3 separate regions of the Homo sapiens genome follow, and all the other regions are linked to region 3. Evidence: fine-mapped expression QTL. A gene starts in region 3. Each other region holds a variant in brackets. All regions are shown on one strand. Distances are between the middles of the regions. Region 1 has its middle 13 kb from the start of MRGPRD. Region 2 overlaps CPT1A (carnitine palmitoyltransferase 1A). Region 3 holds the start of LINC02701 (long intergenic non-protein coding RNA 2701).

What was found.
Region 1: its variant is fine-mapped to the expression of LINC02701 in gastroesophageal junction (GTEx, PIP above 0.99).
Region 2: its variant is fine-mapped to the expression of LINC02701 in whole blood (TOPMed, PIP above 0.99).

What each region holds. Positions count from the first base shown.
Region 1 is chr11:68,988,899-68,998,767 of GRCh38, reverse strand. No RefSeq gene overlaps it. Among named protein-coding and RNA genes, the nearest start is that of MRGPRD, 13 kb to the right of the region's middle. RefSeq lists a silencer at 3,936-4,102. The variant C/A (reference allele first, on the strand shown) is at 4,814.
Region 2 is chr11:68,827,459-68,837,327 of GRCh38, reverse strand. All of the region lies in intron 1 of CPT1A (carnitine palmitoyltransferase 1A), which reads left to right. Among named protein-coding and RNA genes, the nearest start is that of CPT1A, 9.5 kb to the left of the region's middle. The variant G/C (reference allele first, on the strand shown) is at 5,540.
Region 3 is chr11:68,863,069-68,872,937 of GRCh38, reverse strand. It overlaps LINC02701 (long intergenic non-protein coding RNA 2701), which reads right to left and starts at 4,578. Exons shown (of 2, transcript XR_950253.3): 1 at 2,023-4,578; 2 at 1-1,395.

The DNA.
Region 1 (9,869 bases), 130 kb before region 3:
CACAGCAAAGCTGATTAGGCTGCACAGCACTGTGACTTGCATCTTGCTAGCAGACTCTCTCCCTTGCTGGCTTCAATGAAGCCAGCTGCCGTGTTGTGAGCTGACATATTAGAGAGGCCCCTGTGGCAAGCCATTGAAGGCAGCTTTTGGCCAACAGCCAGCAATAAACAGAGGCTCCCAGCCTGGCAGCCGGCAAAGAAACGAGCCCGGTCAACAACCACATGAACTTGAAAGCAGATTCTTCCCGGAGGGAGGCTTCAGATAAGACATCTGCAGGGACCACTCCTGATGTCACATGTTCTTTAAAGGCCTGGGGAAGCAGAGCTGAGCTGCCTCCTGACACGTGTGGCCCAACACAGAAAGTGGGGCTTTACCAACCTCACGGTGTCATCCCACCAGGACCCAGCCAATTGCATATGTAAAGGCAGGTATTTGCAACAAGCCTCTTTGCCTCTTTCAGGTATTAGTTTCTCCACTGGTCAGGAATCTTTGTTGCAAATGACAAAAACCCCATTGAAACACACACACACACACACACACACACACACACAGAATGCACTGGCTCCTATTACTAAAAAGTCCAGGCAAAGATGGGCTTCAAGAACAGCTGGATCCAGGTGCCTGGATCTGGGGACTCTGTCAATCAACTAGCAATTAGTCAAGAAATGTGAGCATCTCTACATGCCAGGCAATGTTCTAGGCACAGAAGGCACAAAAAATGTGAGAACTGCCACCTTCTGGAAGCTTATGTCTTTCTGAGCAGCCTGTCTCTGTCTCTTGGGTCTTGGCCCATTCTCAGGCAGGATCTCCCCTCCTGGAGAAGAGACAGGCACCATAGGTCCAGCACAGCAAACCCAGAATAAAGAGGCCAGGGAAGTCCTCACTGTCACTGCAGAGTCAGCACCGCCCACACCCCTAAGACTGTCCCCCAAGTCAGTTGCCTAGGGTTACTTCTGTGATCAGCCTTAACGTCTGGGGTCCCCGCTTTTTCTTTCCTCATGCACATTTGTTCAAAGCAGATGCCCAGCATCTCCCATGCCTATACCTCCTTCCGCTGCAGGGCGGGACAGTGAGAATGAACACCATGCTAGCTCGGGGACCGTCCTAGAGACTCAGCCATCCGCTGCACCACCCATACGGCCCACCCGGCACCTGCTCCAGGCCAGCACCCTCACAGGGCAGGTGACACGGATAAGATGCCGGCCTCCATCCTGCCCTTGAGGGGACTGACACATCAGAACTCTTCCCTCGCCAGGCAGGAAGGGGGCCTCGGCCGGTGTGGGGGAAAGGGCTGCTCTACCATCTGCCTGTGTGGCATGTGTGTGAGCTCCCCTTCTTTCTAGGAATTGAGGGAGGCCCTGAGGGACTACAGGCATTTTGGTGAGGACTTTGAGGCTCAGAGACGTCACCTGAATGGTGTGGTTCCCCAACTCACAAGCAGTGGAACTCAGACTGGAAATAAGATCCTGGGCTCCGGGCCCAGCTCTTCTTCCTCCCCATCCCTCCGTAGGCAGCATCCTTAGTGAGTCCATTAGCCAGAGCATCTCCCCAGGCAGGCAGTTGGGGGTGGCTGTAATAGCCTTTCCCAGCCCACAAGAACCCCCATTTCCTCCATGGCTTCACCTGAACCCCCCACGGTGGGTCTCACTAATGCTGTGAGGTCTCCTCGGCCATCCCTGGTGGCATTCAGGAAGGGAGGTATCACCTTTCCTTGAAGGCCCCAGCCTCATCCTCCATTTCACTGCCGCCAAGCTGTCTCCTGTGGGGGCCGGGGGTTCATGCTCAGGTCCATTAGACTTCAGCTGGCTCTTCTGGGCCAGCACCGCGGTACCCACGTGCAGAGGCCCTGGCAGGCGGGGCCGGCACCCATCCTGCATTTATACCTCAGGCCCGGCTTCCCACTGCTCAGAGGGAACCTAGCGAAGATCATCAGGGGATCCTGGGGACAGGCTCCTCTGAGCCTGGGGGCAGCCCTGCCCAGCGGGAGAGAAGCAGGCAGCTCAGGCCAGAGCCAGAACAGGGCGAGCGGCTCAGGGGCCTGGGCCTAGGTGGCTGCTGAGGCCTCCAGCACTGGAGTGGGCAGGCACCAGCCACCTTCACCGAGGGACCACACACTGCATCCAAGACAGGTGAGAGGCCTGTTTTTTGCAATCTGGGTGAAGGCAGGAGAGCGTGGGGGACAGAAGCGATGCTTTGCACCCCGTGGGACGTTGGGGGAGTTCCTGTTCGGCCAGGGTAGCCAGGTAGCCCAGCAAGTGTCTCAGCTTCTCTGAGCCCAAATAAAGCAGAAATAATGAAACCCACCTCAAAAACATTCAAAGCGCGGATGAGCTCATGTCACCAACCCTGGGACCTGCCACCTCAGTGTGCAGCACAGCACGGAGAAGCGTCGGACAAGCTAAATTCAAGAAGACATAGTTTGTTTTTGAGAAAGCAAGCTTACGAGACAACCAGGCCCTATATTTTCATTTATGTAAAAAACATATATTGATAGGTAAATGCACAGAAAAAAAAATCTTCAAGGATTTATAGTGATACCTGGGGGTGAAGACAAGGGTAGACCTTCTTTCTTCTTTAGCATTGGAAGCTTTCAAAATAAGAATCTTTGCATCTTATCTGTGTCGTTTTTAAAGATGTTTAAGGCACAGGGAGAAAGGGACAACGTCATACTAGCCGTGGGAAAGAACACATTTTTGTGTCTTCAGTGGCATGGACAAAAGGTCAAGCAAGGCTTTTGAGGACAGGAATCCTAAAAGTTAACATGAGAGATTCTCTATTGGAAAACTTACTTGACATTGAATATGAGAGGACAGTTTCCAACCTAGTGCCTTCCCCAACACACACACACACACACACACACACACACACACACACACACTCACACTCCTCAACACATTCTAAAAATCAGGCTCCATTATTGGCCATAAGGCAGTGGAAATAGAAAATACTTTTAAAGGCCAGGCGTGGTGGCTCACGCCTGTAATCCCAGCACTTTGGGAAGCCGAGGTGGGCGGATCACCTGAGGTCAGGAGTTTGAGACCAGCCTGGCCAACATGGTGAAACTCCGTCTCTACTAAAAATATAAAAATTAGCCAGGTGGTGGCAGACGCCTGTAATCCCAGCTACTCGGGAGGCTGAGGCATGAGGATCACTTGAACCCAGGAGGCAGAGGTGGCAGTGAGCCAAGATCACGCCACTGCACTCTGGCCTGGGCAACAGGGCAAGACTCCATCTCAAAAAGGAAAAAAGAAAATACTTTAAAAATCTGAAATATTGTCTGGGCGCGGTGGCTCACACCTGTAACCCCAGCACTTTGGGAGGTGGAGGCGGGCAGATCACGAGGTCAGGAGATCGAGACCATCCTGGCTAACACGGTGAAACCCTGTCTCTACTAAAAATACAAAAAAATTAGCCAGATGTGGTGGCAGGCGCCTGTAGTCCCAGCTACTTGGGAATCTGAGGCAGGAGAATGGCGTGAACCCAGGAGGCAGAGCTTGTAGTGAGCCAAGATCAAGCCACTGCACTCCAGCCTGGGCAAGAGAGAGAGACTCCATCACAAAAAAAAAAAAAAAAAAAAAAAAAATCTGAAATATTTTAAACCCAACAACTAGGGAATCAAAGCATAACACGAACATACCCCACAGTGTGAAAGCTTACACACAGGAAACGCTTGGAAGGATCCATTCCCAAAGGAATTATCTCTGGTGGTGAGATTATGAGCAATTTTTCTTTTTCGGTATTTTGAGTATCTATCCAGCGTCTCCAATGTGCTCTACAGTAAACACAAATAACCTTGGTAATAAGAACAAGACCCCCAAATTTTAGGAGGTGCTCCGTCTCAGGGCTGTGCACGTTCACCTCCATGGGTCCTGACCCGGGGCGGTCACTGCTATTAACGCCTCTCCTCCCAGGGGTCTCCACGGTCTCTGATGTGTTCAGTGGCCAAGCAAAGCAGCGCTGAGCACACTAGAACACTGTAAACACCCCTTGACGCCGTGCGGCCGTCCCCGGCCTGAGTGATGATCACCTCCCCCCGCTGCGGTACCTCCTCGAGGCCTCGTTCAGCATCGATTAGTGCTGGGGGCAGGAGTTGGCATAAATCGGGGCTTCTCTTGGCTCTGATGGGGATCAGGAGCAAGCTTCAAGCTCAGAACCTCTAACAGAGCCCCAGAGCCACTCAGGGGAACCGTGGGACCCTGAGGAGGGTTGAGCAGTCTGGGGTCCCACTGTCCATCAGTCCATCAGTCCATCAGGCACTCAGCCAATAAACTCTGAGTGCTCATGATGTGCTGGGCACGGGGCCCCCTGGCTGGCCCTGGATACCCCCGCACCCTTCCTAGGAAGAGAAGGCTGAGAGCAGAGCCACCTGGGGCCGGGTCCCCGCTGTTCCTGCTGTGTCGGGCTCAGCTGGGAAGGCGTCTTGTGGGTGGGCTCCACTTGCCCTCTCCCAAGTCCAGGATCAACCCCTCAATGAGCAGTGTGTGGCGATGGCACTCTGCTCTCTATGGTGGGCACACCTGCGCCAAGGGGCATAGGAATTTCCTGTGGCCGCACAGACCGGGCAGCTTAAAGCACAAAGCTCCTCTCTCATGGTCGGGAGGCCAGAAGCCCAGAATTAGGGTCGGCAGGGCCATGCGCCCCCTGAGGCTCTAGGGAGCCCCTCCTTGCTTTTCTGGCTTCTAGTGGCTCTAGGCGTTCCTGGGATGTGGCTGCATAAACCCAGTCCCTGCTTGTGTCTTCATGAGGCCCCCTCTCCTCCCTAGGCAACTCCTCTGTGTGTCTCTTATAAGAACTGGGATTAGGGGCCAACTGC[C/A]TCATCCAGGATGGTCTCATCTCAAGATCCTTAACTCTATTACATCTGCAAAGACCTTACCTCCAAATAAGTCACATTCACGGGTTCTGGAACAGGGACCTATCTTTAGGGACCACCATTCAGCCCCCTACAGGAAACAGCCAGTGTATAACCTGCTGGTCTGCACACTCATTCATCCGTCAGCAAGTCTTGTTGAACATTTACTACCTGCAGGCATGGTACTACGTGTTAGGTTTTGTTTTGTTTTGTTTTGTTTGTTTGTTTGAGACGGAGTCTCGGTCTATTGCCCAGGCTGGAGTGCAATGGCGTCATCTGGGCTCACTGCAACCTCTGCCTCCTGGATTCAAGTGGTTCTCCTGCCTCAGTCTCCCGAGTAGCTGGGACCCACCAGCTACTCAGTGCCCAACAGGCACCCACTACCACGCCTGGCTAATTTTTGTATTTTTTAGTAGAGACAGGGTTTCACCATATTGGCCAGGCTAGTCTCGAACTCCTGACCTCGTTGATCCACCTGCCTCGGCCTCCCAAAGTGCTGGGATTACAGGTGTAAGCCACTGTGCCTGGCCTAGTGTTAGGTTTTTTAAAGGGGAGGTGAGGGTTAAGGAAAGACACACACACACAGAGAGAGTGGCGGCTCTACAGGAAACGCAGGTATATTGTAAAAACCTGCGGAGGTGGGGGACCAGCTTGATGCCAGAGCCCACCACCGCTTACAGGCTGGGGTACTTATAGGTATGGGTGGGAGGGGTCTGGGCAATATGGCTTGCTGCCTGGCAGGATATTGATAAGATCATGGGGGTGTTGCTTGCACTTTCTCCCAGCAGAATATGATAAGAGGCAGGCTGTTTCTCACAGCCCAAATCCCCGTGGAATGTTTCACTTTCACCAGGGTCTGCGCAGTGGCAGGGGGCTTACGAAACGGTGCAGCTGGACTCACACTAGGGACCAGGTGGACAGACAGAGGGATCAAGTCAGACGCGGTGCCCACCCATCCAGCCGACATGCTGGCTGAACTCACTCCATCTGCAGAGACGAGGGAAGGAGGGCCGGGAGTTCAGGAGTTCATTAAGCGCTGCGGGGCGCTTAATCCAGGGGCCAAGCCACAAACATTTATTGAGCACCACTGTATGCCAGCCCCTGATTCAGGGGTGGCAGAGACACGTACTCTCCCCCACCCTCCACCTCCCCACTCACCCCTGCATCCTGAAGCTCACGTCACTGCAGAGAAGCCAGGCATCTCCACTGATGTGGCCAGTTTTCACGTATGTGTTGGCTTTTACTAGAAAATAGCCACAGCTCATTATTCTACTTCGGCTGGGATAAGGGCTCCTGTCTCTCAACCCCTCCACCCCAAGTACCTCTTCCTTTCCTCAGCCCCAATACTTGACACTCTCCTGCTATCAAGGAGCAAGAGGATGCCAGGGAGTGTCACCTCCCCCCCTCAAGTCCCTGGCTGACCCACGCCTGGTTCTGCGCCTCCTCCTGATGATGTTGATGTCTCAGCTCCTAGCTGGCCAAGCTCCCGACTGTGGGCTAGGTCCCCTCTCCTCTCGACACCTCCCCAGGAAATCATTCCTGCAGCTGCGGCCTCTCCCACGCATCAGGAGTCCCCTGTCCACTGAATCACTATCCTCGAATACAGCACACAATCACGTCGTTCCAGTAAATGGAGAGATCAGCCTCCCTGTCATTTCTCTGTTCCCCTACCCCACCCATGACCACACATTCCTTCGAATGTCACCTGCACTCTCTCAGGGGTCCCTGCAGCTGAGCATCTCCCCACCGGGAGGGGTCCTCTGGGGCCATCTCCCTAACACACGCCCCACCTCCAACCCTTATCCCTTTGCAACCCATCAGGGTTCCGCATAAAGGCCCCCATCAAGGCCGGGCACGGTGGCTCACACCTGTAATCCCAGTACTTTGGGAGGCCCAGGTGGGCGGATCACCTGAGGTCAGGAGTTCAAGACCAGCCGGGCCAACATACTGAAACCCTGTCTCTACTAAAAATACAAAAATTAGCTGGGCATGGTGGCGTGTACCTGTCATCCCAGCTACTGGAGAGGCTGAGGCAGGAGAATCATTTGAACCCAGGAGGCGGAGGTTGCAGTGAGCTGAGATCGCGCCACTGCACTCCAGCCTGGTGACGGAGCAAGACTCCGTGTCAAAAAAAAAAAAAAAGGCCCCCATCACAGCTCTCGCCATCACCCTCACAGGTGCCAGGCTGAAGCCACCTTGCTGTCCCTGCTCAGGGACCGTCTCTCCTGCAGAACGGCATCCACAGGTGCAAGGAGGGGCCTGTCTCTTTCTCTCCAGCACCCTGGTACCTGGAATAGCCCCTGACACACTGCGGGCCCTTGGGAAATGTCTGCAAGGGGCTCCCTGGTGACCCCCAAGAGGAAGCCAGGCGCCCTGAGGGCCTCTGAGCCCCACTGGACATCACCACCCTGTCCAGACACCCAGAGCAGAGTGGGGGATGGGGAAGGTGGCAGGTGGGGGACAATGGCCTGGGAAGACCCATCAGAAGTATAAGTACAAGGACCGTGGGACAGCAGCATGTGTCTGCACCCTCCTCTCTCAGAGCTTCGGGGCCCCTGGTCTCCCTTCCCCACAGAGCACTGCCCAAACACCCCTGAATCCACATGGAGTAGACCCGCGTCGTCCTGCAGCGGTCATGTGGGTGCACAGGTGACCCAGAGGCAGAGGCCAGGCTCCATGGCATTAGAAGGGGGTTCCCCAACAAGCTGGAGAGGGATCAGGCAGCCGGTGCCCAAGCCCGCCTGGGAAGGGCCTGACCCTGGTACCCAGCCACGTGCACGCACACTTCTCCTGCAGCCAGCACCCCGCTCCCTCACCTGGCTCCCCCCAGCTCCCCTTCCCACCTGAGTCCTACCCTCTGAGTCCCTCACCTTGTTAGACACACCCTGAGCTGTAGGGTAGGACTGCCTTTAACTGTGTGTTTCCTACCCACAACTGTGAGTTCGTGGTCATCGTTATATATGTGCTCGGTGTGTCCGTGTACATGGGTATACATATATGTGTGTTTACTGTGTATAGGTATATGTGCTGTGTATAGAGCTATGTGCTCTATGTGTATATATGTGCTACATATGTATATATGAATATATGCTATGTGTGATATGTATATATGTCTATGTGCATATGTGTGTGTGCACTATTATATATGTATATGTGTTTTTATATATATGGAATGTATGTATCTGGCACATAGTATGAGTTTGGTAAATGTTTAAATCTGTTTTAAACCTGAGGGGACATTTCCAATTATAGTGACCTGTGGAGATTGGTAACTCTGGGACATGGGTCTGTGCTCCCACCGTGGAGACCAAAAAATGTTGGAGAAAACACAATTCCCCTCCCGCCCCACCCAAATAAAATACTGAGTAGAAAGATGACAGACAGGAAGAGAAATCTTCAGGTGCCACAAATGAATCAGCAACCAGAGCTGACGCCGGGGGCCCAGGGTGCACCAGATGAGACACAGGCTCCAGGGGCTAGGGGTGGGAGGGCTAGAGGTTAGGAGGTGGTCTTGGAGTGCATCAAGTTGGGGAGGGAGTTTGAACAGGGGAACTTGCATGAGGCCAGGGCCCAGGGAGCTGCCCAGAGGAAGCAGTGTTCTGCCCAGGGTGCTGTTAGGAGCTCCACCCCACCTGTAACTGGGTGTGTGGATGTGTGGGCGTGCAGGTAGAGTTGGGCACCAATTTGAGTAGCTAGAGCCCCAAATTTGCACCATTCACAGGTGTAGGATCTGAATTTACTACCACTTGCATGATGCCAAATCTCCTAGCCAAGAAATCCATCAAAAACCTGGTCCTGGACCTGTGAAATCCTTTGAATATCCACAGAGGCCAATGCCAAATGCCTGGGTAGCAAAACCTTTATGACAACGTGGGGCTCTCACAAGAAAAAGTAATGATATCCCTGTAGAAGGAAACCGGTAATTGCAAACTTAAAAATAAAAAATAAAGAGCCAGTCACGATGGCTCACGCCTGTAATCCAGCACTTTGGGAGGCTGAGGTGGGCAGATCACTTGAGGTCAGGAGTTCAAGACCAGCCTGGCCAACACGGCAAAACCCCATCTCTACTAAAAATACAAAGATTAGCCGAGCATGGTGGCACATGCTTGTAATCCCAGCTACTTGGGAGGCTGAGGCAGGAGAATTGCTTGAACCCAGGAGGCGAAGTTTGCAGTGAGCCAAGATCATGGCCACTGCACCGGAGCCTGGGCAACATAGTGAGACTCAGTCTCAAAAAAGAAAAAAATTAGTAAGGATGAAGAGGACCACTACATAAAGGACACAGTTCCTCAGTGTTATCAAATAATCTTGGATTTGTAGTCACTTAACAAAGTTTCAAAATAGGTGGAAGACAAAATGACAAGACCTCAGTCATAATGGGTTGATATTTATAGCAGACAAATTAATAAAGCTACAGATAATGCAAATAACATAATTTTAAAAACATAGTCAAATGGATATAGAAAGAAAATAGAAATTAACCATCCATTAGGCTTCAAAATGCATCTCAACAAATATCAAAAAACTGACCACGTTATCTGACCTTCTTGCAATGTTAATAACAAAAAGATAGCTAGTCATGCATTATAAAATATATTTCTAAATAACTTATAGATATTTAAATTTCATATTTGCAATAGTTTTCAATTATAATCTATTTAGACAACAATAAAAACACTTGATATCAAAACCTAGGAAACATCTAAAGAAATACTTAGTGGTCCATTTATAGCCCTAAATACCTGTTACCAAAAGGAGAAGGTTTAAAAATTAATTACCTAAGCATTCAACAAAGGAAGCTGAAAAAGAATCACAGGGTAAATCCAAAGAAAATGGAAAAAAAATAAAAGCATAAATTAAGGAAACATGAAGCAAAGAAACAGTAGAGATGCTTTTATTTTTAAATAGTTCTCAAAAAACAACCCTCTGGCAAACTGATCAAGAAAAAACAGGAGTGAAGTCACAAATAAAGACTGGCAGATAGCAGTGAAGTTGTAAAAATTCTAAATGAATGTAAGAA
Region 2 (9,869 bases), 36 kb after region 3:
GCCTGTAATCCCAGCACTTCTGGAGGCCACGATGGGCGGAACATGAGGTCAGGAGATCGAGACCAGCCTGGCCAACACAGTGAAACCTCGTCTTTACTAAAATACAAAAAGGTAGCTGGGCATGGTGATGCACGCCTGTAATCCCAGCTACTCGGGAGGCTGAGGCAGGGGAATCGCTTGAACCCAGGAGTTGGAGGTTGCAGTGAGCTGAGATCACACCACTGCACTCCAGCCTGGTTGACAGAGCAAGACTCCGTCTCAAAAAAGAAAAGAAAAGAGAAGAGAAGAGACAAAACTGTCATATGCTATCACTGAAATTTGACTTTTTATAAAATGATTCTTCATTTATAAAAGCATTTATCCCTGATTTGCCAACTGTCATCTCCTCTGGTGCCCTGAAAAAGATTTAATACATGGAGGTTTGCTTTCCTTTTTCTTTATTTCCTTCATTCCTTCCTTCCTTCCTTCCTTCCTTCCCTTTCTTTTCTTGGAGATTTTGTTTCATTTTTCTTTCTTTCTCTCTTTTCTTTTCTTATTTTCTTTTCTTTTCTTTCTTTTGAGGAAATCTCACTCTGTTGCCCAGGCTGGAGTGTAGCGGTATGATCTCGGCTCACTGCAGCCTCTGCCTTCTGGGTTCAAGTGATTCTCCTGCCTCAGCCTCCCAAGCAGCTGGGACTACAGGGGCATGCCACCATGCCTGCCTAATTTTTGTATTTTTAGTAGAGATGAGTTTCACCATGTTGGCCAGGCTGGTCTTGAATTCCTGACCTCAGGTGATCTGCCTGACTCACCCTCCCAAAGTGCGGGGATTACAGGCATGAGCCACTGCGCCAGGAGTTTTTTTTTCCGAGGCAGGATCTTGCCTTGGTGCCCAAGCTGGAGTGCAGTGCCGTGGTGCCATCATAGCTCAACGTAATCTCCCATTTGGGCTCAAGGGATCCTCCTTCTTCAGCCTCTTACATAGCTAGGACCACAGGCATATGCCACCACACCTAGCTAATTTTTTATATTTTTTTGTAGAGACAGGCCTCACTATGTTGCCCAGGCTGGTCTTGAACTCCTGGCCTTAAGTGACCCTTTCACCTTGGCCTTGCAAAGCGTTGGGATTCCAGGCATGAGCCACCACGCCGGGCTTCCTGGTTTCTTTATACTTCTTCAAATACACACAGTGGCTCAATGTGATGTCCAGTACAGTTTGCACAAAATACAACCACAGATTGCTAAAAGGTATACATCGAAGTCAGAAGGTATCAAATGCTGGCATTGAGATTTGGCATGGGGTGGGGGTGCAACAGGTAGGAAGAGAAATCCACATTCCTAGAGGGTTTGCATTGGCACCACAGGGCTACAGTTGGAAAGGGACAAAGAACGTGTTCCTGCAGTAAAGACCTAACAGGTGTCAGAGCTGGCTGCCACGTCCTCCTGCAGTTTGCCGGAGGAGGTAAGGGCATCCTGCATACTTTATGTGAGGCAAATACTTGCTCAAGGTCACAGGTCTGAGTAATTGGTAGAGCTGGGATTTGAACCCAGATCTGTGTGTTTTCTTTCCCTTTCCCAGGCTGCTTCCCAGACCACTGGGCAGCCAGAGGGCCTGGGTTTTGGAGGCCCCCACTCCCTACCCCATGCAGACTGGGTGTGGCACTGAATCCGCCTCTAGGGTTTCTGGGTTTCCATTTCCTCATCTGTAAGGTGGTGGGTCTGAACCTGTCATTCCATGTCACACGAGTTTTGTGAGGATCCAATCAGAGGTCAGATGTGAAGAGAGTTTTGAGTGTGTAAAGTAAATACAGGCTCTAGCAAACAATGTCCTGGCTGCAGGCGGCATTTAGGGACACCAATGTATTTTGCAGTCCCCACATTAGAAGTTCAGTTCAAGTTCAGTTTGAATTAGAAGTTCAAGTTGTTATATTCTGTGCAAAGGTGAAGAATATGCATGGGAGATACAGGGGACACCGCTCCTGTTGTCTTAGGGACATTTGTGGGAACAATATACTGGTACGAAGAGGAGGTTTAGGATGTCCTTTGGGCAGGTGCAGGTCTCCTCCTTGCAGTCTGAGCTCCTGCCCGAGTGCCGATGCTGGCTAGAGGCAGGGCAGGCACAGTGGGAAAGAAGTAGCAGCTGTTAAACTTCTGGTGGGCTTCTGAATAGCTAGGTCAGATAACTGGGTCTGTCAATACGTTGGCTATCTTCTTTATAAAATTGTGAATCTTTGTGGCTTTTCCAAATTTTTTTTCTAAGATCATATTTGTCTGTATTTATCTAACCATTACTTATTGACGTGGTGCACTATAAGGTCTAAATTTGAATTGGCTTAATTTTTTTTTTTTTGAGATGGAGTCTCGCCCTATCGCCCGGGCTGGAGTGCAGTGGCGCAATCATGGCTCACTGCAACCTCCGCCTCCCCAGTTCAAGCAATTCTCCTGCCTCAGCCTCCCGAGTAGCTGAGATTACAGGCATGCACCACCATGCCCAGGTAGTTTTTGTTTGTTAGTAGAGACAGGGTTTCATCATGTTGGCCAGGCTGGTCTCAAACTCCTGACCTCAAGTGATCCACCCAGAATTGGCTTAATTTTTACAGTACTTGGTAAGACAGGGTCTCGCTCTGTCATCCAGGCTAGAGTGCAGTGGCGTGATCATAGCTCACTATAACCTCAAACTCCTGGGCTCGAGTGATACTCGCAAGTAGCTGGGACCACAGGCATGCACTACCCACACCTTGGCTAATTTTTGTATTTTTTGTAGAGATGGGGTCTTGCTACATTGCCCAGATTGGTCTCAAATACCTGGGCTCAAGCGAACTTCCTGCCTTCGCCTGCCAAAGTATTGGGATTACAGGCATGAGCCACCATACCCAGTCCAGAATTCCTTTTATTTTATTATTTTTATTTTTTGAGACGAAGTCTCCCTCTGTCACCCAGGCTGGGGTGCAGTGGCATGATCTCGGCTCACTGCAACCTCTGCCTCCCGGGTTCAAGCGATTCTCCTGCCTCAGCCTCCCGAATAGCTGGATTACAAGTGCCCACCACCACACCTGGCTAATTTTTGTATTTTTACTAGAGATGAGGTTTTGCCACGTTGGCCAGGCTGGTCTTGAACTCCTGACCTCAGGTGATCCACACGCCTCAGCCTCCCAAAGTGCTGGGATTATAGGCATGAGCCACCGTGCCCAGCCCAGAATTCCTTTTATAACCTGACGACCCATTATATTGACCCCATAAATGTGAATAGTCCATTATGATAAACTTCAGTACAGGAAATCCACTGTGTGGCCAATTTAAATAATGTGAATATTGAATGATCAGTCATGAATTCAAGACGCAACCTTTCATAATGAAAGCTCCAGGCTGGGTGTAGTGGAGCACACCTGTAGTCCCAGCTTAGGCTGAGGCAAGATGATCTCTTGAGCCAGGAGTTCAAGGTCACGCTCGGCAACAGAACAAGACCCTGTCTTATAAAAAAAAAATAATAATGAAAATCCTTCACCTTTCTTGTACATGAAACCCTCCGAAAAACATAAGGTGAGTCTTACATTCTCACTTCTAAGGTGCTTCCATCAGGTTTGGGAAACAATTTCTTTTTTTTTTTCTTTTTTGAGATGGAGTTTCGCTCTTGTTGCCCAGGCTGGAGTGCGGTGGTGGGACCTTGGCTCACTGCAACCTCCACCAACCAGGTTCAAGCAATTCTCCTGCTACAGGTGCCCACCACCACACCCAGCTAATGTTTTGTATTTTTAGTAGAGATGGGGTTTCACCATGTTGGCCAGGCTGGTTTTGAACTCCTGGCCTCAGGTGATCCGCCCACCTTGGCCTCCCAAAGTGCTGGGATTACAGGCGTGAGCCAACACGCCCAGCCAAGTTTGGGAAACAACTTCTGTTTGTGTGTATACACATTTACTGGAAAAGTACAAGGGCACCATTACAGATGTGCATATCTGCAATTGAATAACGATGTGGCTCATACAGTGCAGAGAGCGCACACCCACACTTGCCTGGAGAAGAGGAGCTGCTGCTTTTCTTCCTTCCCATTATTGCTAATTTTTGCCTGCATCTCAGTTCAGAAGAGCCATGAACTTTACTGCACATGTGTGCTAGTTCTAGGGAACCCCCTGGGCTGCTGCTGTCCTTCCAGAGCCTTCCTGGTACTTCCCTTGAAGTTCTTTGGGCAGCAGTGAGGAGGCCAGGCCAGATTTTTGCCACCTTGGACATCATGCATGTTGTGAAGGTGGTTTCCCCGAGCTGGAGCCAGTCCCGGAGGCTGGCACTAGCTTTCTAGCGAAGCAGAATCTTCCCAGGCATTGGTCACCCGGGCATCCAAGAATGTGTTGTAGATGATGAGATAACTGCCCTGCCCTTCGCCAGAGACACTGCTTCTGACCCTGCCTACAGCGCCTTCTCCAGTTTTTCCAGGGATGAGGCCCATGTCATCCAGCCTCACACTTTCTCTGTTCCTAGAGGCCCTGCCTGGTATTCCTGCTGAGCTAAGCTGTCGCTTCCCATGGGTAACATTTTCTCAGAGGATTTCCAACATAGTTGTTTACCGCTGGAGGAGATGGGCAGCTGTTAGCTAGGTTTGAATAGAAAGCAGAGCCTGCTCCTGTGTGCATGGGCACTGTGCAATGCTAGTGGGAAGACTGCAGCATGTGAATAATTTTACAGTTGGCACTGATGGTGTTTATACTTACTGGAGTTTTATTGCTGGCTGCAATCTCATCATTTTGGTTACAACAGTGACCTAATTTTATATCTGTGTTGTAACTTTAGGAATCCTAAGTAGAACTTTTTGTGTAGTACCTACCACTTTACTTTGGGAGTTAAGAGTATAAGTTTTGGAGTTGGACCTGGGTTTTTGTTTGTTTGTTTGTTTGTTTGTTTGTTTTTGAGACAGAGTCTCGCTCTGTCACCCAGGCTGGAGTGCAGTGGTGCAATCTTGGCTCACTGCAACCTCCACCTGCCAGGTTCAAGAAATTCTCCTGTCTCAGTTTCCCTAGTATCTGGGACTACGGGTGCATGCCACCAAGCCCAGCTAATTTTTTGTATTTTTAGTAGAGACAGGGTTTCACCATATTGGTCAGGCTGGTCTCGAACTCTTGAGCTCAGGTGATCTGTCCGCCTTGGCCTGCCAAAGTGCTGGGATTAGAGGCGTGAGCCACCGCACCTGGCCTGGGCCTGGGTTTGATTTCCAGCCCTGCTATTTGCTGGCTGTGACACTGGGCAAGTTTCTTGACATCTAAGCCCTGGTTTTCTCATTAGTACATGGAGATAGCCCTAGTACCCATTTCCTAGGGTGCTAGTGGGAATTAAATGATCTAATGCTAGTCAAATACATCAATATAAAAATATATATGGGTCACATTGTCTAGCATATGCCAAAGGGTTTGGTAAAAAGAATGTTCTGGGTCGGGCACAGTGGCTCATGCCTGTAATCCCAGCACTTTAGGAGGCCAAGGCAGACGGATCGCTTGGGGTCAGGAGTTCGAGACCAGCCTGGTCAACATGGTAAAAACCCATCTCTACTAAAAATACAAAATTAGCCAGGCGT[G/C]GTGGTGCGTGCCTGTAATTCCAGCTCCTGGGAAGGCTGAGGCAGGAGAATCACTTGAACCCAGGAGGCAGAGGTTGCTGTGAGCCGAGATCATGTCATTGCACTCCAGCCTGGGTGATGGAGCAAAACTTCGTCTCAAAAAAAAAAAAAAGGAATGTGCTGTAACTTCATTATTAAAAGCACAAAAAGGAATCTTTATGTCTTACCTACCTACCTTCCCACACACCTATCTATTAGTATCTCCATACGTGTTGATTGCAAGGCTGTGTTGAAAGACTTCTGCCCCACTCAGAAATTATTTACATATTTCAGTTGCTATAAAGACCATTTTCTTGGAAGTCCGTTGTCACGTATCAAGTTTTATTGTTTGTTTTATATTACAGAGGCAAGTCCCATATCTCCATTTTCCTTGGGCGTGTTTTGAAACCTGGCAATGCACGGTGCATCAAGCTGACCTTTCACCTGCTTTCCTCAGCCACCTGCCTGTCTCAGCTCTGCAGGACTGGGGGTGCAGGAGTGGGGAGGTTTGCTCAAAGGGCATAGGGACCTGTGTTGAGTGTCTTCTTGATTACATGGCCAGTGTTAGGATTCATAGGCCAATGACTTCGAAAGAGGTGAAAGGTTTTGGTTAAAAGGAATTGATTATGGAGAAAGGGAACAAAGTGAACACTTTCAAAAAACAAAGTACCAGAGCAGTTTATTGGCCAAGGATTTGGGGGATATTGAGCAAAGTTGTTAAAATGAAGTTAATCGTAAGCAAAATTGAAGATGTGTTATCACCTTCCCCCCCACGATTGTTGATGTAGCATTCAGCGTTGGAGAACTGTCCATAGTCTTCAGGATTCAATTCGGATGACACAAGGATTCATGTCCTTGAGAAGTGTATTTGGAAGACTGGACACATAACTCACAAGTGAAGGTCATTTGCCAGCTGGTGCAGGTGACATTGCTAAATGTCTCTTGTAGAATTTCTTGGGGAGTTTGGATTCGTGGGCTGCCCCCTAAAGTGCTGGGAGCTTTAAGCTAAGTATGAAGAAAGGAGAAAACAGAAATGGAAAAAGAGCTGAAGACTTCCCAGCTGCGAGCCAGTTAGTGGCATAGGTCAAGGCTGGTGGGCCTGGCGGAGGGGCAGGTGACAGGGAGAGCTGAGCTTGGAAGGTGGTAGGAACAACCATGGAATAGGTGAGCTGGAGACGGGACAGCGGATTTGTGACAATTGTGATGAAGGGGTTGCAGCCTTGGCTGGGGCCTCTTATTCTGCATCTCTGTGTGGTTCCGAGAGCAGATTAGCATAAGGTGCTTAAGTGCTATGGCACAGACCTCAGTGATGAGTCCCATCATAGCCTCCAGGATGGCATGTGGCCTGGCTCCCATGCTCCACCTGGGAGTTGGTGGGCACCCCGTGTGCTCCGGGCAAGGAGGTCTGTGTGAGCTCCCAGCAGGTGGGCTCCAGGTGGGCGATCTCCACCCCCAATCCCCCAACCCCACTCAGCCTTTCTTTTATTTTTTTTGAGACAGGGTCTCACTCTGTTGCCCAGGCTGGAGTGCAGTGGCACAGTCCGGGCTTGCTGCAGCCTCGACCTCCCAGACACAAGAAATCTTCCCACCTCAGCCCCCAGAATGGCTAGGACCACCGGTGTGCGCCACCACATCCAGCTAATTTTTTGTATTTTTGGCAGAGAAGGAGTTTTGCCACGTTGGCCAGGCTGGTCTTGAACTCCTGGACTCAAGCAATCTTCCCATCTTGCCCTCCCAAAGTGCTGGGATTTCAGGTGTGAGCCACTGCACCTGGCCTCCCACTCAGCCTTTCAGGGCTCGTGTCCACTTGGGGCAGAGGTACAGGCCAGGCCCCAGCCACCATGCCAGCTTCTCAGAAGTGATTTCTGTACTTTCAGTGAAAATAGACACATCCGCGGCCCCATGACAATGCCAGACGATGTGTTGTTTTTGGTGTGGTGGAGGCCGCCGGGGTGTTGCCGCCACCTCCGATTTACTCCATAGCTGGCCCAGGGGCACACAGCAAGGAGGGGTCTTAGCTCAGGAACAGCACCCAAGGGTCCTCCTGTTTTACTTACCCAGAGCTGCCTCCTCCACGAGTCCATTCCCAGGGCTAGTTCGGGATTCCCGTCCGAGGGCTCCGCGATGATTTGTGGGAACGAGTGAGTGACAGGGGAGAGGTTAAGTTCCCTTTTCATCCATCTGTATTTTTCTGTATTTTCTCATTTCTTCCTTTTAACTTTTCTTCCTCCTCTTTTCTGCCTTTCCAGTAAAAGCGTTCTCTCCTCTAGCCATCCTTGAACTTGGGGCACAGGTGCACGCCCTGCTGTGCAGCTTGGATCCCAATGGTCACGCTGTGTAAACTTTGTCCCCCGGGACACCACCTTTTCCCACCAGGGCTGTGATATGTCTCCGATACCTGGGCATGGAAGAAAATCACAGAAGGAGAGGGGCTGCAGATAGGCCGGCCCCTGGGGTGACGTGGATTAAAGAGCCGTTGGGCAGGTCTCTCTGGGAAGTCTCTGTATGGGGGTGGCTTGGAGAAAGGAAGGCTGGGCTGTAGAGCAGACGTGTTGCTGGTGGGACACGCGGCCCGGGGACCTTCACATCAGCAGGTTCTGGGGACTGGAGTGAACACCCCTAGTCCATCCCTGCTTCTTCCCAGGCAGGGCAGGTGCCGGCGTTCTCAGTAAGAGAAACCCTGGGGAGGATGCGGGCACGTGGACAGGTGGTGAGATTCATTGTCAGCTGGTGAAGTTTTGGCTGGGTGAAGACGTGCTTGGAAGGTCAGGTGCAGTGTGCTCAGGTTGAAGCTAAAGTCCTGGGGGGCTGGCTGACTCCCAGGGTGCAGGGGGAGCCACCTACTAGTTCAGAAGCCAGAGGGGCCCAAGGCAGCAGCAGATGGACCGGGGCCAGCTTGCGTGCCTGGTGGCCTCCCCCAGGAGGAAGAAGGAACGGGAAGTGGGGCTGGCCCACAGAGACTAACGGTTTAGTTGTACACCGTGAGTGGGATGTGGCAGAGCCCCCACCAGCCAGAGGAGGCGGACGCTTGCCCAAGCCTCAGGCCATGCCATGCCCCTGCCACCCTCCTCACTACAGCCTCAGGAAGGCTGAAGGGGTGAGCAAAGAGGCTGCCCAGTGTTGGTGGCCTGGATCCAGACGCAGGCCTGGCTGCCAGCTGGCCTAAGGGCCCTTCTCCCAGCGTGCTGGGGCTCCCAGCCACAGTGCCCAGTCTGGCAGGGTGTGCCCAAGACCCCAGGGAAGGCTTCCGGGAAGGGGAGTTGTAACACATGGGTGCCCTGGCCTCCTGCCCTCGATGAAAGGTGCTGGGGAGGGGAAGACGCAGTGAGCCTGGTGAGGGACTCCCACGCAGGTGGGAGGTGGGGGGCCCTGACCCAGGCCTGGCTGTAGCGGACAGGTGGCCCATTCTGGACACACAGAAGCGGAAGGAACACAGGCTGCAAAGTGGTGGAGTATGCCCCCCTCTCCAAGAAGCCCCTGGCTGGGGCCGATGTGGCAGCGATGGCGAGGTGGGCAGGGCACTCAGACGCCTTGGGAAAGCTGACTTGGGAGACACAGGGAGATGGGGTGTCGAGCAGCTGGTGGGACTTCAGCAAGGGCAAAGAGGGCAGGATGACCACATCAAGAAGGAGCTGGAACTTTGGTAGAGCAGGCAGGGCAGGGCAGGCATAAGGAAGTCTGCCCCAGAGGCCAGGGGTGCCCACGAACACTATGCTCTTTTTCTACTCCCATTAAAATACGATGCTGCAACATGGACAAGGCCACTGTCTGCTTCTTTGTTTGCAACAGTGAAAAAGTGAACAGAGAAGTTCCCTGAGCCCCAGCAGGGACACAAGAGCAGACTGGTTCCTGCCAGCAGGGGGGTGCAGGACAGCAGGGCCAGGGCTGTGTAGGTGGGCATGGGGCAGCTTGGAACTCAATGTGGACGAGAAGCAAGTTGCAGGACCGCGCACAGAGTAGGCAGCATTTGTGTGTGCCTCGCACGTGTATGGTGGCACTGTATGCACTTGTAGATACTCAAATACGTAGGGAAAGATGAGCCCCGCATTCTGGGGACAGGGAGAGGAGGTTGTATCTATTGCATCTTAGAAATTTTTGCAGGGCTGGGCACCTGTAATCTCAGCAGCTTGGGAGGCCAAAGAGGAAGGACTGCTTGAGTCCAGGAGTTCAAGACCAGCCTGGGCAACATAGTGAGATCCCATCTCTACAAAAACAAAAATAAACAAACAAACTGGTGGGGGTGGGGTGGGGTAGGGGGGACATTCTAAATCAATACAGCAAAATGTTAAATTTGTTGATTCCAGGAGGGTAC
Region 3 (9,869 bases):
TAGTTCTCCTACTGGGTCTGTAAAAACTTTTCCCTAGGGAGCAACACAGTATCTGCTAATAATAGAAGTTTTTAAGAGCTAGACGCTTGAACTTGTGCGTGTCTGTTTGGGGAAAGAGAGAGTCAGAGTAAAGTTATCTTGAGGCATTAACTCTTTTGCTTCCTGAGGCTATTAGTCTCCCATGTTAGTCCTTCTACAAACATAACATGAGGAAATGCCTAGGCTGCATGCAATGTTTTTAGCCAGCTGAGCAAATAGGTTTTTGGCTAAAGGAGGAGGCTCTGGTAACTTTTGGTTTATATGCTCAAAGAATGACTTAAAGACTCGGAATTGCTGCTGAGCTGACCGCTTGGTTTGAGTCCTCTTTAGAATATACAAAGTTATTTTAGTTTTTTGACTGTAGCTTTGTAATGCCATGGAGTAACCTGCAGTCTATATAGGTAGATCTGGCTTTAAGATAGTAAGATTTACAGGATTGCAAGTGCTTGTCTTACAATCCGGTTTTGCTGGCACTTTGATGAGCAAGATTGGCTTTAGCCTCGGTGATGATCGGTCAGTGAACTGCGTTGTGCGGTTCCAGCAAGCTATCGCTAGGGCCTCGGAGGGGCAAACGGGGTGCACATGCAATTTTGTACTGGCAGTTTGTATAGTACCCTGTAGGACCAGAGATTGTGAGATAGTTCACAATCTCTGGTTCATGGATGTTAACTGACAAATATCAAAGTATATGGATATAGCCACCCCACCCCCCGCCCCCGGGAAGAGAGGCTTGGGTTCAACTTACAAAACTTCCTCCCTTTGACTCGGTATGAATCTCAAACCAAGTCCCAGGTAAACACTTAGGGTCATAGCATATATAAGGCTGGCCATTTCCTGGGTCACAGGTTGAATAGGTGGTTTGATTATAAGTACAAGTTCCTAAGCGAGTCCCTGTACACTCATAATAAGTATAGTGCAATAGGGTTCTAGTTATACTGTTCCCTGACCAAGTAGTATGTGTACAGTGGGGACACCTTCTGTAGGTGTTTCTTCTACATGGTTAAGGGGGGTAACAACAAAACAATGTACAGCATATTCATATCCAGCAAGGACAAAAAAGGTCCTTACCTGGGAAAAAGGTTGAGCACAGCGACAGAACAATAGTAAAACAGTTAGTGTACACGAAAACCACTAGTCTTAAGATTTTAGCTACATTACTTGCTTGACAAGTCCTCAAGTTTCAGCCGTGCGTAGACTAGTCAGCCTCCAGAGTGACTAGAGCAGGGCTGTTGTCCTCAGCAGCAACTCGGTCTCATCTAAGGATCAGCCAGGTTGGATGATCTGGGTCCTGCTGGCTGGTTCACTTGTCCTGAGCTGCCAGTGTTAGCCGACTGTGGTGGATCCAAGACATAACACCTGCAAGTTAAACAGCAGTGGGAATGGACAAGATTACGATATAGGACCCATCCTATATGGATCCTAGAGAAATTAGGTTTTACTTTCTAACCTAAACAGCGTCACTAGATTTAAAAGGGTGTCGGGCTTATAGGCATTTTCATGTACCTAATTATGAACACTTTGGCTGTTTCAAAAACCTGCATTTGCTTTCTTAAAGTTAATTCCCCTAGTTCCTGGAGGTCACCTTTAATTTGACCTATGATGTAGGAGTGGCCGACCAAAAAAAATCTTATAGGGCAAATACCCAGTTTGTTTGGTGGGGGTGCACCTGACTCAGAGGAGGACCATAGCCAAAAACCTGATTCTATCTTAAATGAATTTCCTGGCAATATTTCTTCAGTAGCTGCTCGAGTGTCCGGTTCACGCCTTCCACCTTCTCCTGAACTTTGCAGCCAGTAGGCCGTGTGTAACTTCCATTTTATTTTTAACAGTCTTGTTAAATCTCGCACTATTTCAGCTACAAATGCTGGCCTATTGTCTGACTTTAAAGTTAGAGGCAGTCTAAACCTGGGAATAATGTCTTTTAACAGTACTTTAGTCACTTCTTGTACTTTTTCTGTCCTGGTGGGGAAAGCTTTAACTTACCCTGAAAAGGTGCAAACAAGCACTAGCATGAACCAATAACCTCCGGCACGGGGAGGTTCTGTGAAGTCTATAAGCAAGTTTTCACCAGGCAGGGCTCCTTCTCCTGCTGTTTCCCAGAGGAGGGGTTCTTTTTCTTCCCCTTTTGTAACTCCATCTAGTGGCTTAGCCATCAGTGAGAAATTGGAATCCAGATACAGCAGAATCCTGCTGCCTTTAACTTCTAATGTGACCATGGGCCCCTGGGTGCCTAATGAGAAGGTTCCCGGTCTGTCCTGTTCCTTACGTCCTTCGGCTCCTGCCAGCCTGATCAGATCAGTATTTGGTTCCCCAAGGTGCGGCAGCCCTTGGCCGATGGCCTCTTTGTCTCGTGGTCTTGGCTATTTCCCTCATTGCCTTCTGAACACTCATCCTTCCAGTGTCCTTTCTTTTTGCATCGCGCACATTAATCTCTTTCTTTTTCTTTTTCTTTTCTTTTTTTTTTTTTTGAGACGGAGTCTCGCTGTGTCTCCCAGGCTGGAGTGCAGTGGCGCGATCTCGGCTCACTGCAAACTCCGCCTCCCGGGTTCACGCCATTCCCCTGCCTCAGCCTCCCGAGTAGCTGGGATCACAGGCGCCCACCTTGTCTGGCTCTTGAATCCATTCCTAACTTGACTTTTTTCCACGTCTACGTCCGCATCCACGTCCTCTCACATTGCTAATCTCCCTTTCCATAAGAGCTGTTGACAACAGATTGGCCTTTTTCTTAAGCCTTCAATTTACTTTCCTTTTTCTTTCCTGAGTTCTGCTCTTGCGGCCAGCCGGTGGGGCCGGACAACGGCACGGGCCCCGCCCCCGTGCACTGCCGCCTGTCTCTCCTGTTTTTTTCTGATTTCCTTTTTACTTTCTTCTTTCCCTTCTCACACTTACTGTTACTTTCTCCTTTCCTTTTCCTTTGCTCTTCTCCTGGCGCCAAGTCCCTGGCCCCTTCTTTTTCCAGATAGAGCCGGGCTGGGGAGAGGAACTTAATGGTGGGCGTGCTTAGCTGCCGCGCTTGTGGCTTTTGCTCTTTCCCGTTTTGTTCCTTGGTCACAGTTAACATACACCGTGGTGGCCACTTTTATGGACTGGGTGGTATTCATGCCTGCAGCTTCCACTTGATGTCACCCTGGGCTTGCCCTACGAATGAAGTATTCCCCATAGGCTGATGTTCAGCAGCCTCACAGTTAAATGGGGTACAAAGCCGGAATGCTTCACAGAGTCTCTTATAAAACTGACTTAGGCTCTCATCAGCTCCTTGAAGCACTTCTGAAATCTTCTTTATATTCATTGCTTTCCTTCTACCAACTCGTAGCCCCTGCAGAAGTGCCTCTTGGTACCTCTGCAAACGCTGAAGCTGAGTTTCATCCTCTGGGTCCTAGTTGGGATCCTGGTCATCATAATAGATAGGTCCTCGTGTCCCCCTGAGAGGCATTTGCATAGCTCCAGCACGGCCAGATCTGAGATGGCCCACTTGACTATCTTGACCTCCTTCCTGGCCTCTCAAGGCTCTGATCCTCCCCTTCGAGGTGAGACCTGGGGCATGTTAGCTCCTGAATCTGGTTCCTGGGGGGGCTGTCGGCCTCGGTAAAGCGGGGGTAGGCTGGGATATATGGAGGAAGAATTTCTGTTACCTTTGGTGGCTCCTGTAAAACTGGCTTCTCTTGCTGTCTCTGGGATTCCCTTTTAACTCTGTGTCTGCCGGCAAAGCTGCTCTTATTTTCACTTTTGGTTTTTTTTGCAATAAGCTGTTAAACAGGCCTGGATCAATGCTGGGTTTGGCTATATTATATTTAACTATGAGTCAATATAAAGAAATTGATCCAGGTACACTGGCTGTTCTCCAACCCTTGTCACCACCTTAAATACATGGCCAATTGTTCCCTGTCTGTAGTTCCTTCGGTCAGCCATCCAACACCAGAAGAGGGCAATTCTAATTCACCCAGAGTTCTCAACCTCTGAGGGGGTTAACTCTATAATCCCCTGCAAAACCTTTCTTAAGGTTCCGTAACATGCACTCCCACAGAGTAAGTTTTGATGTTTTGATGACTTTCCTCCCATTCCTCCCTTTACAACGCAGCACATTCACTCTTGCCTACTCACTCTTCCTCTCGTTTCGACCAACCACACTGTCTCCTATTATGGGGGTTTTCAGATGCTGCTTGGCTTTGGAGAGGTCCTTATTCCTGCTGCAACTCTGAGCTGTAGGGCAGCTCCTATTAGCCATATGCAGATCACCACTAGTCTTAGTCGGCCCCACCCTTTCTCGGAGCACACAGTCTACACTAAGGGATCTGTGACTCTTCACTTCGCAGCTGATGCGCCTAATGAGGCCTTTTCATTCACACACTTCCACACACCTTCAGTTCCCATGTTTGTAACTGGGGTGGCAAGCCACTCTCGCCCCCTCTAGTTCCCAGTTGGGGTGGCGAGCCACTCTTGCCACCTCCAGTTCCCTAGCCGACTTGGCGAGCCACTCTTGCATCCTGTGTCGGCGGGGTGTGAGTTTCATCCAAATTGACAAGCCACTCCAGTCACCCCCAGCCCCTCTGGTTCGGACTATTTGGCACACCCCGGGAGATGATCAGGCTCCCTTCTGTCCAAGGGACGGGTCCTGCCTTGAGCCCCCAAAACCTTACTGTGGTTCCTGAAGCGCGTTGTTTCTGAAATCATCCTGTAGTCCCTCTTTAGGTTCCGTTTCGCTGCTGGGTAGGGGTGCCAGGTCACAGGAGAGCTGATCTCCCCCCCAGGCTGAAGTTCTCCCGGTGGCACCTGGGGTCACAGGTTTCCTGAGACCCTCGCTCCAGCCCCCAGAGGCAAAGGAGACAGTAAGCCTGCCGTCTCCAGTCCCTTCGTGGTTGCCAAAAATGTTGCGGTAAACTGAGGAACGGAAAAACCAATTTGCAGTACAGAAGGATTTGTTTATTTTAGGTACGCACCGGCTCAGAGGATTCACATCCAAAAGCTGAGCCCTGAACAAAGAGCAGTGTTTTTATAAACAGCCTTACAGGAGCAAAATAAAAGCAGTAGCAAAATAAAAGCAGTTAATCATACAGTAACAGGTCACGTAATCTATAGCATAACATAATTTGTGACCTAGCCAGTGGCCTTGTAGCTGCATTGAAAGAAAAACAAGAACTGGCTAAATACAGACATTTGTAAAACATAATCATGCTAATCATGCTTAAGAAGCCTGGGAAAAGAGTAACAGTAAAAGAACCTGTCTTTCTTTTTTTTCTTTCAAGCTTGCTCTGGAAGGGAGGGGGGTGTCTGGAGCCCATTCCTTTGGCCTTGGCTATTTGGACAGCGTTATCTTCTAACTGTCCTTAAAGTGAGCTGCTAGGCAAGAGGAAAACTTGTTCTTTTCTTTTTAGCCTTTGCCTTGCCATATTCTGGGCCTTAGCTTTTACTTTTCTTGGCGTGAATAAATGCAGTACTGATTATTATTATTATTATTATTTAAATTTCTGCCTCATGATAGCAAGTGAGTAAATGCCCCTAGTCAGTGTCTCTCTTGCACCGTCTGAGGCATAAAATGCCAATAAGGACAGTGCTGTCAGCCAGCAACAGAGACAGACATTGCTGCTGGCTGTGTGGCCAATTCCCTGGGGTAGGCCCTGGACACAGCTGCAAGTCAGGCTGATGCCGGAGCCCTGGGTGTCGGCTCGGGACTGGGCTTGGCTTGCCTGGTGGTGGATGCAAATGCTCAGAGTGCATAAAAGAAGGAGAACAGAAGACACTGCACCAATTTGGATGGTGGGGTCACATTTCCTCAGCCCGAGGAACATCCTGTGCACCCCATCATGTCCAACGATGGGCAGAGAGTTATCCTCAGGGGAATAGTTGGGCAAAAAATTGGAATGGGCAATTGAACTGAAACATGGGTTGTCTAAAACACGGGGAGATAGGCCAGGCGCAGTGGCTCATGCCTGTAATCCCAGCACTTTGGGAGGCCAAGGCAGGCAGATCATGAGGTCAGGAGATTGAGACCGTCTTGGTTAATGCAGTGAAACCCCGTCTCTACTAAAAATACAAAAAACAAATTAGCCATGCGTGGTGGCAGGTGCCTGTAGTCCCAGCTACTCGGGAGGCTGAGGCAGGAGAATCGCGTGAACCCGGGAGGCAGAGCTTGCAGTGAGCCGAGATTGGGCCACTGCACTCCAGCCTGGGAGACAGAGCGAAACTCTGTCTCAAAAACAAAAAAACAAAAAACACACACACAAAAAAAAACACGGGGAGATAAAGCCATAAAGGGCTGGCCTACATGCCTTCACGGGTGTGTGTGTGCCTGTGCGTGTGTGCGCATGTGTGTGCATATGTGTGCATGCGTGTGCTCACACTCAACATGAATGGGGCTAGAGGAGAGTCCCCACTAGACATTCCTCTAGTGGAATCTGGGGAGGAGAAGGCAGGGGCGATGCTGGAATGATGACTCTCTCTTTATATATATATATATATATATATATTTTTTTTTTTTTTTTTTTTTTTTTTTTTTTTGAGACGAAGTTTTGTTCTCGTTGCCCAGGCTGGAGTGCAATGGCACGATCTCGGCACACAGCAACCTCCGCCTCCCGGGTTCAAGCCATTCCCCTGCCTCAGCCTCCGGAGTAGCTGGGATTACAGGCATGCGCCACCACGCCCAGCTAATTTTGTATTTTTAGTAGAGGCAGGGTTTCTCCGTGTTGGTCAGGCTGGTCTCCAACTCCGGACCTCAGGTGATCCACCCACCTCGGTCTCCCAAAGTGCTGGGATTACAGGCGTGAGCCACTGCACCCGGCTACTTTTTTTCTTTTAAAGAGTAAGAAATCAAAATGAAAATAGGGCCCAATGGTGTGAGAACAGCAACAAAAAGGTAGAGAGTAACTGACCAAATGCAGACAGAAGGGAAGGAAGGAAGGAGAGGAGAGGAGAGGAGAGGAGAGGAGAGGAGAGGAGAGGAGAAGGGGAGGAGAAGGGGAGGAGAAGGGGAGGAAAGGAAAGAGGAAAGGAGGGAGGGGAAAGGGGAGGGACAGAGGGAAGGTAGGAAAGGAGGGAAGATAGGAAAGGAGGGAAAGAAGGAAGCAAAAGGCATGGGAATTGTGGTACAGGATGTACAGTGTAGAACAGGCGAAAGGAAACTACCGTATTGGTAATCCTCCGGAGCAGTTTACAGGTAAAGCAGCCTGGCGGGCTGTTGGCAGTGCCCAGTGCCGGTAGCAGTGGGAGGCTTTCGGGAAGGCCCAGAGCTCCCACAGGCCAGGGTGGTCAGAAGGCTGGGGCCGAGGAGGGCCTGCTGGTGTTGCTGTGACAAGGCACGGGCCCGGAGTCCTGTCCTTCATCCTGGCATCCTCTCAAGACAAAGCCCACCAGTGTTGACCCACCTGGACGTGGGGGATAGAGCACCTAAGGGCCTCTAAACACCCTGTCACCCCTAGAGACTCCTCCCCAGCCCTGCCTCCTTCTTGTCACGTCCCCAGCCTTCCACGTGGCCACGTGCACCTGGCACCTGGGACCAGTGGTCATTATCTTTCCCTGGAGCGTGGGGAGAAGCTCAGGTCAGGTGTAGGGCTGGAGAGGAGGCCTGTTTTGCGGCCTCTGCAGTGTGTGCCCCTGCATGCGTATGCGCGTGTGTGAGGATGGGGCACCTGCAAGCCCAGGACTGCCACCTGCAGCCACCCATCTTACCTGGTGTCTTTGCAAGGGGGAAGGGCTTGCCCGAGTCAAGGTGGAGCAGTGAGGCCCCTGCCTATTTTCACTGTTTCTGGACTCTTTTGCGGTAGCCTATGACCACGGGTGTGATCATTTCACACTTCTTTCATTTCTTTCACTTTTTTTTTTTTCGAGATGGAGTCTCACTCTGTGCCCCAGGGTGGAGTGCAGTGGTGCGATCTCGGCTCACTGCAACCTTTGCCACCCAGGTTCAAGCGATTCTCCTGCCTCAGCCTTCCGAGTAGCTGGGATTACTGCATGCCCAGCTAATTTTTGTATTTTTTTTTTTTTAGACGGAGTCTTGCTCTGTCGCTAGGCTGCAGTGGCGCAATCTCGGCTCATTGCAACCTCCACCTCCCAGGTTCAAGTGATTCCCCTGCCTCAGCCTCCCAAGTAGCTGGGACTACAGGCATGTGCCACCACACCTGGCTAATTTTTTGTATTTTAGTAGAGACAGGGTTTCACCACGTTGGCCAGGATGGTCTTGATCTCCTGACCTCATGATCCTTCTGCCTTGGTCTCCCAAAGTGCTGGGATCACAGGTGTGAGCCACCACACCCGGCCTTTGTATTTTTTTAGTAGAGACAGGGTTGCACCATGTCGGCCAAGCTGGTCTCTAACTCCTGACCTCAGGGGATCCACCCGCCTTGGCCTCCCAAAGTGCTAGGATTAGAGGTGTGAACCCAGCCTCATTTCTTTCACTTTTTAGCTTAAATCCCTCCTTTAACCTTGTCATACATCACTGCAGCTGTGAAATCGTAGCCTCGATGTCACAGCTACTTATTGATACACATTAAAATAAATACCTGGCTGTGGATATAAAGCCCATGTGTTCATATCTCACCTGAGTCACATCTGGTGTCCCCAGCACCACTCAGACCACCTGCTGGGCTGTTGTGGCCGTCAGAGTGGAGCAGAGCTGGGTTGGGTTCCAGTTCTGTTGCTCATCTGCTATGGGATTTTTCAGCCAGTCCTCACCCTTCTCTAAGCCTCAGTTTCCACACCTGGGAAGTGGAGGGCCCCTGGCAGGTAAGGTTACAGAGAGGCCAGTTCTCCCACTCCGCCTGCCTTGGAACTACTGTCAGTCACTCTGGAGGTCCCTGCCTCCACCAGAGAAGCCTGCAGAGTTGAAGGGGGTTGAACTATCCTTGCTGCAGAAGCCTCCTGAATTCTGCAGGAAGGGAAATGGCTGAGGGCAGGCTATTGGGTGCTCCCACAGCAAACTCCACAAAGGTACTGAGTACTTTAGGATCTGAAGGAAGAGGGAATATTTGTTTCCTTCACAGCCACAAAAGGACCTTTCCAAAAATAGCCACCTCTTAGGTCCAAGCAGAAATATCTGAGCCACGCTTGGAGGGTTAGTATTTTTTTTTTGGCATTATGATGATTCAACTTTTCAGAAAGAAAATCAAATGGAAAGTGCATGTCATACCTAGCAAGCCTTGTGAACAAGATTGGGCAAATTGCTTCCAAATTCTTAACATTCATAACCTTTGGTCTGGAGATACCAGTTCTAGAATTTGTTGTAAGGAAATAGTCAAGTATATGAAGATATCTGTATGTATGAGAATGCTCTTCCTAGCCGAAGTAGCAAAAATGGGATAAACATGGATGTCTAACAGTAGAGGAATGCTCAAATAATTACAAGGCAGCCATATGGTGAGAAGCACCAGGCAATCATTACCAAAAAGCAGAAGGGCTGCTGCCTGGGGAGGGGGTGGCAGGAGGGAAACACCCCAATGGGGTACGAGGAACTTTTGGGGGCGATGGATGTGTTCACTATGTTGGTTGTGGTCATGGTTTCCCAGGTATATACAGATGTCAAAACTTATCAAACTGTACACTCTAAATATGTATAGTTTACTATATATCAACTATATCTCAATAAATATGTTTTTTAAGAAACCATGCAGTTATTAAAAACCATGCTTCAGAAATATTTAATAAAATAGCAAATGATACGGAAATAACATCAAGTGAAAGGTGAGGGAAAATAATACAGGTTTTTGGAGAACAATTCGTCAATTTGCAGCAAATTTTTTTTTTTTTTGAGATGGAGTTTCACTCTGTCACCAGGCTGGAGTACAGTCCCACGATATTGGCTCACTGCAACCTCCACCACCTGGGTTCAAGTGATTCTCCTG